Regions from separate parts of the Homo sapiens genome. Here region 1 is linked to region 2. Evidence: fine-mapped expression QTL. A gene starts in region 2. The other region holds a variant in brackets. All regions are shown on one strand. Distances are from middle to middle.

Region 1 (5,376 bases), 29 kb after region 2:
AACAAAATGACATTGAGGAGAGTGTGCAGGCATGAGAGAGCGAAGATCAAACACACACACACAGACACACACACACACACACACACACACACATACACTGCATAATACTTCTGTAGTTAATGAGAAAACCAAAACTCAAATTCAAACTTCCAGTTAAGGGTGACATTTAAAAGTCACATTTGGCTCCTCCACATCACAAAACTTCATGATACAGCACTAGAGGATGTTTTTAAAGGCACAAGCACAACTAGATGGAAAGAACATGAGGGGAGAAAGCATTCTGGATGCAGGAAAACAGATGAGGGAGAGGCTGCTGATTTATTTAGCTGATCCAAGACAGCTAAATCCCAAACCAGCACAAAGGAGAGCATGGAAGCTGTCTGGTTTGCAAAACAAAACCCCTCAAAGACTTGGGGCTTGGCAGGACTAGATATCTCTGGAAATGAGGGCAAAAAAGGAGCTCAGGACAGGAGCACTGGGTGAAGGTTAACTTAAAAAAAAGCAGTTAGGGCCAGGCGCAGTGGCTCACGCCTCTAGTCCCAGCACTTTGGGAGGCCAAGGCAGGCAGATCATTTGAGGTCAGGAGTTCGAGACCAGCCTAGCCAACATGGTGAAACCCCGTTTCTACTAAAAATACAAAAATTAGCCGGGTGTGCTGGCACATGCCTGTAATCCCAGCTACTCGGGAGGCTGAGACAGGAGACTTGCTTGAACCTGGGAGGTAGAGGTTGAGACAAGATAAGCGCTACTGCACTTCAGCCTGGGCAGCAGAGCGAGACTCTGTCTCCAAAAAAAAAAAAAAAAAAAAAAAAAAAACCAAAAAAGAGCAGTTAGATCTCAGATTTTCTGAGCAATCCAGTGCCAAGAGGTGACTGCCCGCCCCGACTCAGCTGTAAGACTGGAGTTGTATGTATTCTCTGAGAATAAAAGGGAGCCCTTTATAATGGGGACTCTGGCCCTTTCTTGGTGGAATATCTTAGAGAACAGGAAGGTTGGGTGAACATCAGTGTGCAGACCAGTTCCTTAGGCCCCAGTCTCTATCCACATTTGGTTTCCAAGCCCCAGCAGTCAGGAGTAGCCCCCAGGAAGGAAACTGATGAATTTTCTCCAGTAAATTTCTCCAGAGGTTCTCCAGTAAAATGGCGGAGGTGGACCCTCCTGTGTATGCCCTCCCCATCCTCCGACGCCACCCAGTCAGCTCCATAGAGAACCATTCTCAAGTGGGAGTGATAGGCCTGGTTCAGCAGACATTTGAGGAAACACTCTCATTTGAGGAACCAAGACAAAAAGAGGAAGAAAACAAAAAGCAAGTTGCAGGCAGCAGATACTGTGCAGGGGGAAGAAAACTGTTATACAAAACTACTGTAATATCCTCAGAGAGAATCTCTAAATACGGAAGAGTCAGAGGAGGAACCGATCCCCAGAAGTCAGAAATAAGATATCATGAATAAAAAACTCCAAAGAAGGGTTGGATGAAAACTTGACACTTCTAGGAAGAAGAGGACAATAAGAGAGACAACCCAATGTCCGAATAGAAGGAGTTTTAGAAAAAGAGAAGAGAGAAATGAAGGAAAAAGAGTCTTTAGAGAAATGCTTGAAATAAACTCCCCAGGATGGGAGTATAAACACTAAATACTAACTGAGATAACCAAAATTACCATGGAGATTTGGGAAGGTGTGTGGTTGGGTGGCGGTGGGTGGCGGTGTGGGGAGGGATGGGTGAGTGGAGAAGGGGCAGAAAGCAAAATCTCACTGCCCATGCTAGGAATTCCACAGACAATGACTAAAATGTAAAATCAAAAAGGAGTAACATAAGCATACTAATTAGAAATAAATATCTTAAAAAAAGGAGAAAGATAGAAAAGAAACCTCATCTGAGACCATAGAACGTGGTGACAGATTCAGGCAATGGCAGGGGAAGAATTTGCTGCCTCATGATAAGCCGTGTAGAACTCTTGATTCTTCAAACTATGTGCAAGTGTAAACTTTCATTGTAAAAAAAAAGTGAAATAAGATGGAAATAATTTATTTTTGAGATTTTGAGCATACAAATAAGACAAGTCAGAGCCATGGGGCAGGGATGTGAGGCAGGGGAGTGAGTTGGTAACAGGGTCAGCTTGCATTTTTTCTGTGTTATTGTAATTTCTCACGTTGAGACTATCTTCATGTAAGTCCATATTTTAAAGTATTTTAAAAATTTAAACAAGAAAAGAAAAACTATAACCAAAAAACGGAATGCAGCAGGGCCACAGTGCTAGAGGTTCTTTGGATGACCAGGAGGAGAATGGGGAGGCCAGGCCAGGGGCTCCCTCTTCTAGAAAGGGCCACTGAGCCCCACGCTGGCCTCTGAAGAGGCCCTGGCATATTGGAGGTTCTTGGAAGATGTGTTTAGAATGAACCTAGGAATGTGTGGGAGGTCCATGGATGCTATGTGTCTGGCAGTCCACACCCAGTGGGGAGCCCATAGTCTCTGACGTAGGGCATAGGATGCTCATCCTACAGGCAGGAACACAAAATGCAGATGTGGGACTAGAGGACTCCTGTAAAGGGGCTTCACTGCCACACCCAGGATCTAGGTCCTCACTTCGTGGGCTGCGATAGGGGTCAGTGAAGGTTGTGGGTTGCTTATACTTGGCCATCAGAGCCCCAAGAGGAGAGTCATCCTGCAGCAGCACAGATAGGGGCTGACCAGGACCAGGCTGGAAGCAGAAAGGCCACTTAGATGGGGCTGGTGTTCTAATATCAGCTGAGGCCAAGAAAATCCTCACCATGCTGGAACAAGGGCTGGGGGCCTTGGAAGAAGCAGGGGAGGGAACATGGCAGGTGGAGTTTGGAATCCACACTTCCCCCTCCCACCTACCTGCCATGGCTGATGCAACATTATGTTCTAGAAGAGGCAATTTAAAAATCACTTTGAGAGCAGGCTAGGTTTCTGTTGTATGTTTTATTTTTTTTCCAGGAGAATAAGTGAGGGAAGCTCAGCAATAAGGAGCCATAGAAGATTGATTTAAAGTTTGATGTGATTGAGTAAAAGCTTGAGACTGGTGGGGAGAAAGTCAAGATGGATGGGAAAGCACATGCACTTCTAGGAGTGGAACATTAATATTGGACAGTCGGAAACC[A/G]GAAATCTTTAAGAAAGAGGAAACCTCAGGGGAAGAAAGAGAGGCCATCCTATCCCATAACTTGAAAGTCACAGGAATATTTCAGCCTGCAGGGAATCTTCATTTCCCACCCCATTGTTTACCAAACTTGCACGTCAAAAACAAAAACAAAAAATAAAATGTTGCTTTCATGAACTCTGTTACTCCATTCTCCCATTGCTATAAAGAAATACCTGAGACTGGATAATTTTTTTTTAAAGAGGTTTAATTGGCTCATTGTTCTGCATGCTGTACAGGAAGCATGATGCTGACCTCTGCTCAGCTTCTGGAGATGCCTCAGGAAACTTAGAATCATGGCGGAAGGCAAAGAGGGAGCAGTCATGTCACATGGCCAGAGCAGGAGCAAAAGAGAGAGCAGGGAGGTGCCACACACACTTTTAAACCACCAGATTTCGTGAGAATTCACTCTATTTTGAGGACAGCACCAAGAAGATGGTGCTAACCACTCAAGAGAAACCGCCCCCATGATCCAAATACCTTCCGCCAGGCCCCACCTCCAACACTGGGGATTACAATTAAACATGAGATTTGGATGGAGACACAGAGCCAAACCATATCACGCTCCTTCCCTGAGTCCTTGACCTGGAGTAGATGCCTGGGTTGTCTCCATTTCTCAAATGAGGAAACTGAAGGACTGACATCAGGCCAAGACTAACAGGTACTCACTCTCAGATAGCGCCTGAAAGCTGACACAAGTTCAGTGAGACTGCTAGGACAACCCCCTGCCGTGCCATTAATGTCTGCCCACAAAAACCTCACACCTTTGGCTGGCTCTATCTTCCATGGCCCTCATCTCAGCACCACCTGGGGGTACGATGAAGATGCCATCAGGTGTCGGAGCTCATCTTGTGCTCACAGCTCACAGGACCGCCCCTGTGTCAGATGCCCTTCACTTCTGGACCTCATAACCTCCACCCAGCTCAAGTTGACTTAGCAAGCCCTAACTGTGCATCCTTCATAAGCTGTAAATTGTTACTCAAACCAGCCAAGAGGATGTCACTGCTATTATTATTGCATTACTGTTTTGATATTGCTGTTGTTATTTATAACACTTCCTCAATTTAATTTCTGTTCTCCATTCTATATCATAAACCTCATTCAGGTGGGGCTTCAATCTGTCTTATTATTTCTCTTTTCCTATCACCTAGCGGTACTTGACACATAATTGGTATCCAGTAATATTGGGTGCTTACTTGAATAATTGAATGAATGAATGAATAAATGAGAAAAATAAATGGAATGAATGAGTGCATAGTGTGACCCATATTTGTATTAGATCCTCAATGGAAAAATAATTTATTGCTTTTGTAAAGTGCCTGAGAATTGGCAAAGAGCTTATTGACTGCCTTCCCTATCAGACTGTAAGCCCAACAAGGTGAGGTTTTTGTCTATCTTGTTTATCTCTGTGTCTCAGTATCCAGAACAATGTCTGACACATAGTAGAAGCTCAATAAACACTTGTTCAATAAACATTCACACAGCATCTCCACAAGGCCAGGCACAATCAATTTCCACTGTACTGGTAGAGAATGTGGGGCTCAAAAAGGTAGAATGAAAGCTTGCATACTATAATGGAAAAAACCATAATATTTGGAACCAGAATACCTGGCTTCAAGTCCCATTTATACCACCTACTAGCTATAGATTTGGGAAGATCATTGAAGCCCTCTTGTTCCTACTTTTGGTGTGGTCCTTTGAGGCTGTGGCTTCACTAAGCATTGGACAAATGGAAGTTGCTGTGGTTGATAGTGTTGTCAATGCTGCCTAAACACTCAGAGATAAGACTATTACAATTCTTAGAATGGGTTCTGAAATGAAAGACCTTCAAGAAGCATGCGAAGGCATCTAATATGAATTATAAAAAGGAAGTTGCAGATCTAGAAAACAATGATTGCCTGAACATGCAGAGCTCCCTGAGACCAGCCCTTCAGATGGTCTTCACTCCCTTTCTTGATTAGGAGTCCAGACTCGTGGGTGGTAAGTCTGCCACGAATACCTGGTGTCTAAATTTTAGCATGTCATATTACAGGATCTTGCGTGATAGAGAAAAATGGCAGATTTCTCTTGAGTAACCAGGATGGTTCTAGCTGGTAACTAGAGAAGATATTTCACTCTCTGAGCCTCAGTTTCCTCCTTGTAAGTTGAGAATAACCACACCTATCTTATAGGACTATGGTGAGAGTAAACTCATGCGGTAAACCATGTAGGAAATACC
Region 2 (5,376 bases):
AGCACAGTCTGAGGTTGGAGAGGAGAAAAGAGCTACTTTGCCCACCTGCCCCATTCCCCCAGCCTTCTCAGACGCAGAACGTAGATCAACTCCTGCCCTTTTCCCAGCCTGACTTCTGGGGTGTGAGCCCAGCTCTGATCCCCAGAAAAGCAGGCGAGTGAACACAGTGACTTAATATCATCAGGGAAAACAGCTGCACAGGAAAAGCGCCTGGGGGTGGTTTCTTAACCAAAACAAGCGTGAGTGGACCCAGACTAAGTCTCAGGGCATTTCCTTGCCTCTGACTTGGATGAAGTGGTCCAGGCTGCATTACTCACAAATGGCTTCCTGATTGCTCAAGACATTGTCACAAGCCACAGGACTTGCCCTGTGACCCTGGTGTCGACATGAGATTTTCTAGCTTGATATTCTCCCCACTCCTCATGGGTGGCCCCTGTCCCAACCAGGGCTTGTACCTGGCCTTAAAGGAAAAGGAGGTCAGTTCTGTCATTCAGTGGTGTTTCTTGGATCTGCCCATGAAGCCAGAGTTTCCTGTGAGGCTTCTGGCCTGAGTCAGCCTGGGGCTCAGGGAGGGCGTACAAGAGGGGCAGTACAGGGACATAGATAAGGGCCCAGGGGAAGTGCTTAGTGGCTCATTCTGCTGGTGGAATCAGGAGAATTTCATTGGGGAATTGCCCAAAGAGGACAAGGCAATGTGAGGAAGGGCATTCCAGAGAGAGGGAACTGCACGTGCAAAGACACAGCTACATGTGCAAAAACACAGAGGCACAGGAGAGCAGGGGCTGCACATGCAAGAACAGGAACACACAGGAGCAAGGCATGTGCAAAGTCACTGGGGCACACAGGAGCAGGCGCTGTATGTGCATATGGTTGTATAGAGCATCGGCAAGAGATAGGTCAGAGAGGAGTCCATGGATGCTACCATGAAAGAACCTGGAATGTTATGCCAAGGTACTCATTCATCCCTCTGAGGAGTAGCTGAAGACCAGAACAAGTGACTTGATGCTGAGTAAGACAGCTTTGTGTCCATGGACTCTACCTTCTCCCACCAGCTTGGCCATGTGGCTCACCACATCCTGGTGAGTCTTTCTTCTTACTCTGCAGTCCTCCCCTCTCCATAGGGCACACTGTTCCCTAGGGAGGACTGCCACAGTGATCTCCTGGTGGGCTCTCTCCCTCTACAGCTGCTAAAGTTGATTACATACCAATAGGACACTTGGGGATCTGTGGACATGGGGCACTCGAGGGAGTGTGGAGGGTCAGATGGAGGCTATGGCCATCTGAGCAGGGGAGGGCATTGTTCAAATCCCTCTTTACCAGCTACTGAAAGGGTCACACAGTTCTCAGGCCCAAATAGCCAGACCCAAGCTCAGATGCCTAAGAGGATACACGGAGTGATTATCAGGGGCACAGAGGCAGGTCACCGTTCAGCAAGTTCATCGGGGGCTCAAGCCAGGAGCTGTTACCATGCAGTGATGGGAATAGGGTGGAGAGGCTGGCATCACAGAGCAGCAGGAGCTGTAGACACAGCCCTGGGTTCTGGTGCCCGCCCTGCTGCTCGGTACTGTATGACTTTGGGCAGGTGATTCAACCTTGCTGTGCCTTATTTTCCAGATTTGAAACGCTATATATATAGCACCTGCTTCAGGAGTTTGAGAGTTAAATGAGATATTGAATGTAAAGCACCAGCCTCAGTGCCTGACACATAGTAGGTGCCTAATAAATGATAGCTATTGTTATGATTGCATTCCTTGGGTAATTTTTAGCATCTTGAGGCTGGATTCCGCTCCTCACAAAGCCCCAGTATACACCCTTTAAAATTATGCCAGCATCAAACAGAAACATGGCAATTAGCAGAGATTCACTATTCAATTCAGATCTTCCTATGAAGAGCCCTGAGTTAAGTGCTTCCTGCCCTCTTATTCCTGTCACCTTACTAAAGAGGCATAAATAGTATCCCTAACAGGCATCTTCCTGTTGGGAGTCTCCTGAGGAGTTTACATTGCCGGGCTGCTTGCTCCTTCCCAGACACACCTGACTTTCAACACGTAAAACAGTGAGCTCATAAGCGGGTCCCCGTGGATTGGGCTCTGGGGTGGGGGGGGGGTCTCGGCTACCTTCTCACCAAAGCGCTATCCCACCCGGGCTTGGCAGGGAGTGCGGCTCCCAGGCGGCGGCTGAAAGGCGCATTTCTTCCAGCCTCAGCAAAGGATGGCCGGAACCCCAGTACCCTCTCCCGGGCCAGGACCGCGCCCCGCGTCTCTGGCTGGCCCCGCCCCTCTCGGCCCCGCCCCGCCCCCGCGCTCAGCTTGGACAGCCACGCGTGCGCCCAGGCCAGGCGGAGGGACTGCCCCGCCCTGGTCCAGTGATTGATCAGCAGTGATTACTGAGGCTTTAATGGTCCGCTTGGATGGGAATTAATTCTGGGATGGATAAATAATGCATCGAGGTTTATGTAGTCCAAGGCGAGCCGTCCGTCCGGAGCCAGGAGAGGTAGCCGAGGGAGCCTGACGGGTGACGCCAGCGGCCACGGGGCCCCGAACGAGCAGGACATGAGGGGCGACTAGGCGCGAGGACGAGCAAAAGCAAGTGGATGACAGCATGAACGGCCCTGCGGGGCTGGCCGGACGGCTGCAAGAACATGCTGAGCCCAAAGATCAGGCAGGCCAGGAGGGGTAAGTCCAACTTTCTGGGGTTTCTCTGGGCACCGCATGTGCCTCTTGGCAAACGTGCGCGGACACTTGGCCAGCCGTCACGCCATGTGTCACATGGGGCGGGCGTTCTGGGACCATTGCCGCTGAATAGTGAGCATCCTCCTGAGGAAGTGCCCTTCCTCGTGAAACTCCTGGGCTGGGTGGGGACACGACCTGAAGTTGCAAAAGGGCGGTGGCCGGCTTAGTGCCCCAGTGGGTGTGCACACTTCGCCCCACATTCCACATTTTACAGAGGCCCTCGGTCGCTCCAGGTGACCTGGTGGCAACTTTAAGGAAACTTTGCTTCTTTACTAAAAAGGAAATGCCCAAGATTTGCCCTGTGGCCAACACAGAAGCACCCCTTACCAGGGAAGGCCATGCCCTGGCTTCTAGAGACAGCTGGGTGCAAGCGAGGGTCTTCGTTCCCGCTGCTTTGCAGACAGTATTTCCTCAAGCAGGCCAGGGGCAGGCAGGCTTTCCTGCCAGAACACTCAGAAAGCTGCAGGGTCTGGGGGCAGGACGGGTGGATGCGGGAGCAGACTCAGACCAGCAAGAGATGGGGGTCAGGAGAGTCCAGGACTGGGCTAGCCAGCCTGTGTCCAGCCAGCGACCCAGCACAGTGACCTGAAGACTTGGCCACTGTATGGGGCTAGAGACAGCATCTCCATGGACAACAACTTCTTAGCCACGGAAAGTGTCATTTTGAATGAGAACATCTGTCTTTTACAAAAATAGAATGTGTCTTTTCAGGTGGCCAGTATCTGGGAGGGCTGAGCTCCTTTTGTAAACAATGAAGTGGAGGATGGGTCTTTGGAGGTGGATGGAGCATTTGCCTGGGAGCTTGGAAACAGTTTGTGTCTCACCAGGTGTTTGCAGCGGGGGGCCTCCAGCCTCCTGTGGATTCACAGGGAACACACCCATCTTATTAGCACACTGCAAGCACTTGGATGATTTTCCTGGATGGGACCAGCCTTCCAGTGTGTTCCACAGACGTCAGGACCCCTCTGTGGGGTGCTTTCGCATGGGCTGAACCCTGTGTACCCCAATGGGCAAAGGAGGAACTTGCATGGCTCTGCTGAGGAGGGGGCAAGTCTAGTGATGACCCAAGGGATAGGACAAGCCAGATACCTCTGCGAGAGCTTAGTTCCACCCTCCCACTCCTGTGTAATGAGCTGGCCACTGGCCACATGTGGCTACTAAGCACTTGGCATGTCACTAGTCCAAATTGAGAAAAAGACACACCAAATTTTGATGATTTAGTACAAAAAAAGAATGTACAATATCTCATTAATAATTATTTTACTGAAATGACAGTATTTTGGATATATTGGGTTAAATAAAATCTATTATTAAAACTAATTTTACCTGTTTTACATTCTTTTACTATAGCTACTAGAACATTTACAAGTACATATGTGACTCATATTATATTTTTTATATTTCTATTGGACAGTGCTAGTAAGAGACCAGTGCTTCAGCAAAGGGGCTTACAGGCAGCCTGTCTTTGAAATCCAGGATTTCTCATAAATGTTTGTTTTAAGTCAATGGTTCTCAACCAGGAGCAATTTGCCCCACTAGAGAACATTTGGCATTGTTTGGAGTATTTTTGGTTATTCCAACTGAGGGGTGCTACTGGCATCTAGTGCGTATAGGCCAGCCATACAGCCCTCTTCCAGTCCTCAGTGTTCCATGAGGCTTCCACCATAGGGCTTTTGCACATCGTTCTTTCCCCTGAAATGCCTCCCACATTCACATGTGCGCACATGCATGCCTGTATGTGTGTGCACATGCGTTCATGCATACAAACATACACACACACCTTAATTCCTATTCACCCTCCAGTTATAGTATAGTTCAAGTGTTGCCAGCCAGGGAAGTCTTCCCACACACCCCAGTCCAGGCTGGATCCTCTGCTCCATCTCTCCTTTTCTTTATGGTATTTACCATAGGTTGCAGTTGTATACTCCTGAGTGTGACTGATTGGTGAATATCTGTCACTTGCATTGCTCCATGAGCTTCGTGAAAGCAGGAACCATTTCTGTTCGGGGACATCATTATACCCCCAATGCCAGGTACCTGGTGGACACTCAACCTGTGTTTTTTGAGTGAGTGGATGAATAGCTGGATAGAGGAGAAAGCATTTGCCTGGGTGGCTGGAGCACTGTCTCTACCCAAGCTGGCCCGGTACTTAGGAAATTTGGCCTCATCTTTCACTGACTCATATGTTGCAAATATTTTCCCAATTTGTTGCTTGCCCTTTATTTTTATATTAGAGTGGGTTTTTTTTCTAGATGTACCTGTTTTTAACTCGTATATATTTTCCTTTTAGAATTTCTGTCTTTGTTTGCAATATTTCAAAATAAAATTGTTGATGCTATTAAGGAGGCTCCTTCTTTTAAAGGAAATCATCAGACTGATGGGCCAAGTTATAGGAGCTTTAACCATCTCCTGTAGCAGGAGTGTCAATGTCTCAGGAGCCTTGATGAATGTTCAGAGCCTGGTCAATACTTTGGGGGTGGGGAGAGAAAGCTCTATTAATATGATGAAGTACCTTCAATGGCCTTATTCTTGTGATTGTCCCACAAGAAAGTAAACCAACATTTATTGTGCACCCATGCTCCAGGCACTTTTGTTGTACCTCATTTAATTCTCATGACTACACTATAATGTGATATCATTGTTA

The links. PIP is the estimated chance that this variant, and not a neighbour inherited with it, causes the effect.
Region 1: its variant is the best candidate, but not a certain one, in a credible set for the expression of ARHGAP22 in whole blood (TOPMed, PIP 0.61).

The regions. Positions count from the first base shown.
Region 1 is chr10:48,573,242-48,578,617 of GRCh38, reverse strand. The region is part of intron 2 of ARHGAP22 (Rho GTPase activating protein 22); the gene reads left to right. Among named protein-coding and RNA genes, the nearest start is that of ARHGAP22, 29 kb to the left of the region's middle. RefSeq lists enhancers at 1,169-1,218, 3,589-4,090. The variant A/G (reference allele first, on the strand shown) is at 3,123.
Region 2 is chr10:48,602,062-48,607,437 of GRCh38, reverse strand. ARHGAP22 (Rho GTPase activating protein 22) reads left to right here and starts at 2,365. Exons shown (of 10, transcript NM_021226.4): 1 at 2,365-2,675. The coding sequence starts at 2,642. RefSeq lists a silencer at 2,198-2,357 and an enhancer at 2,214-2,944.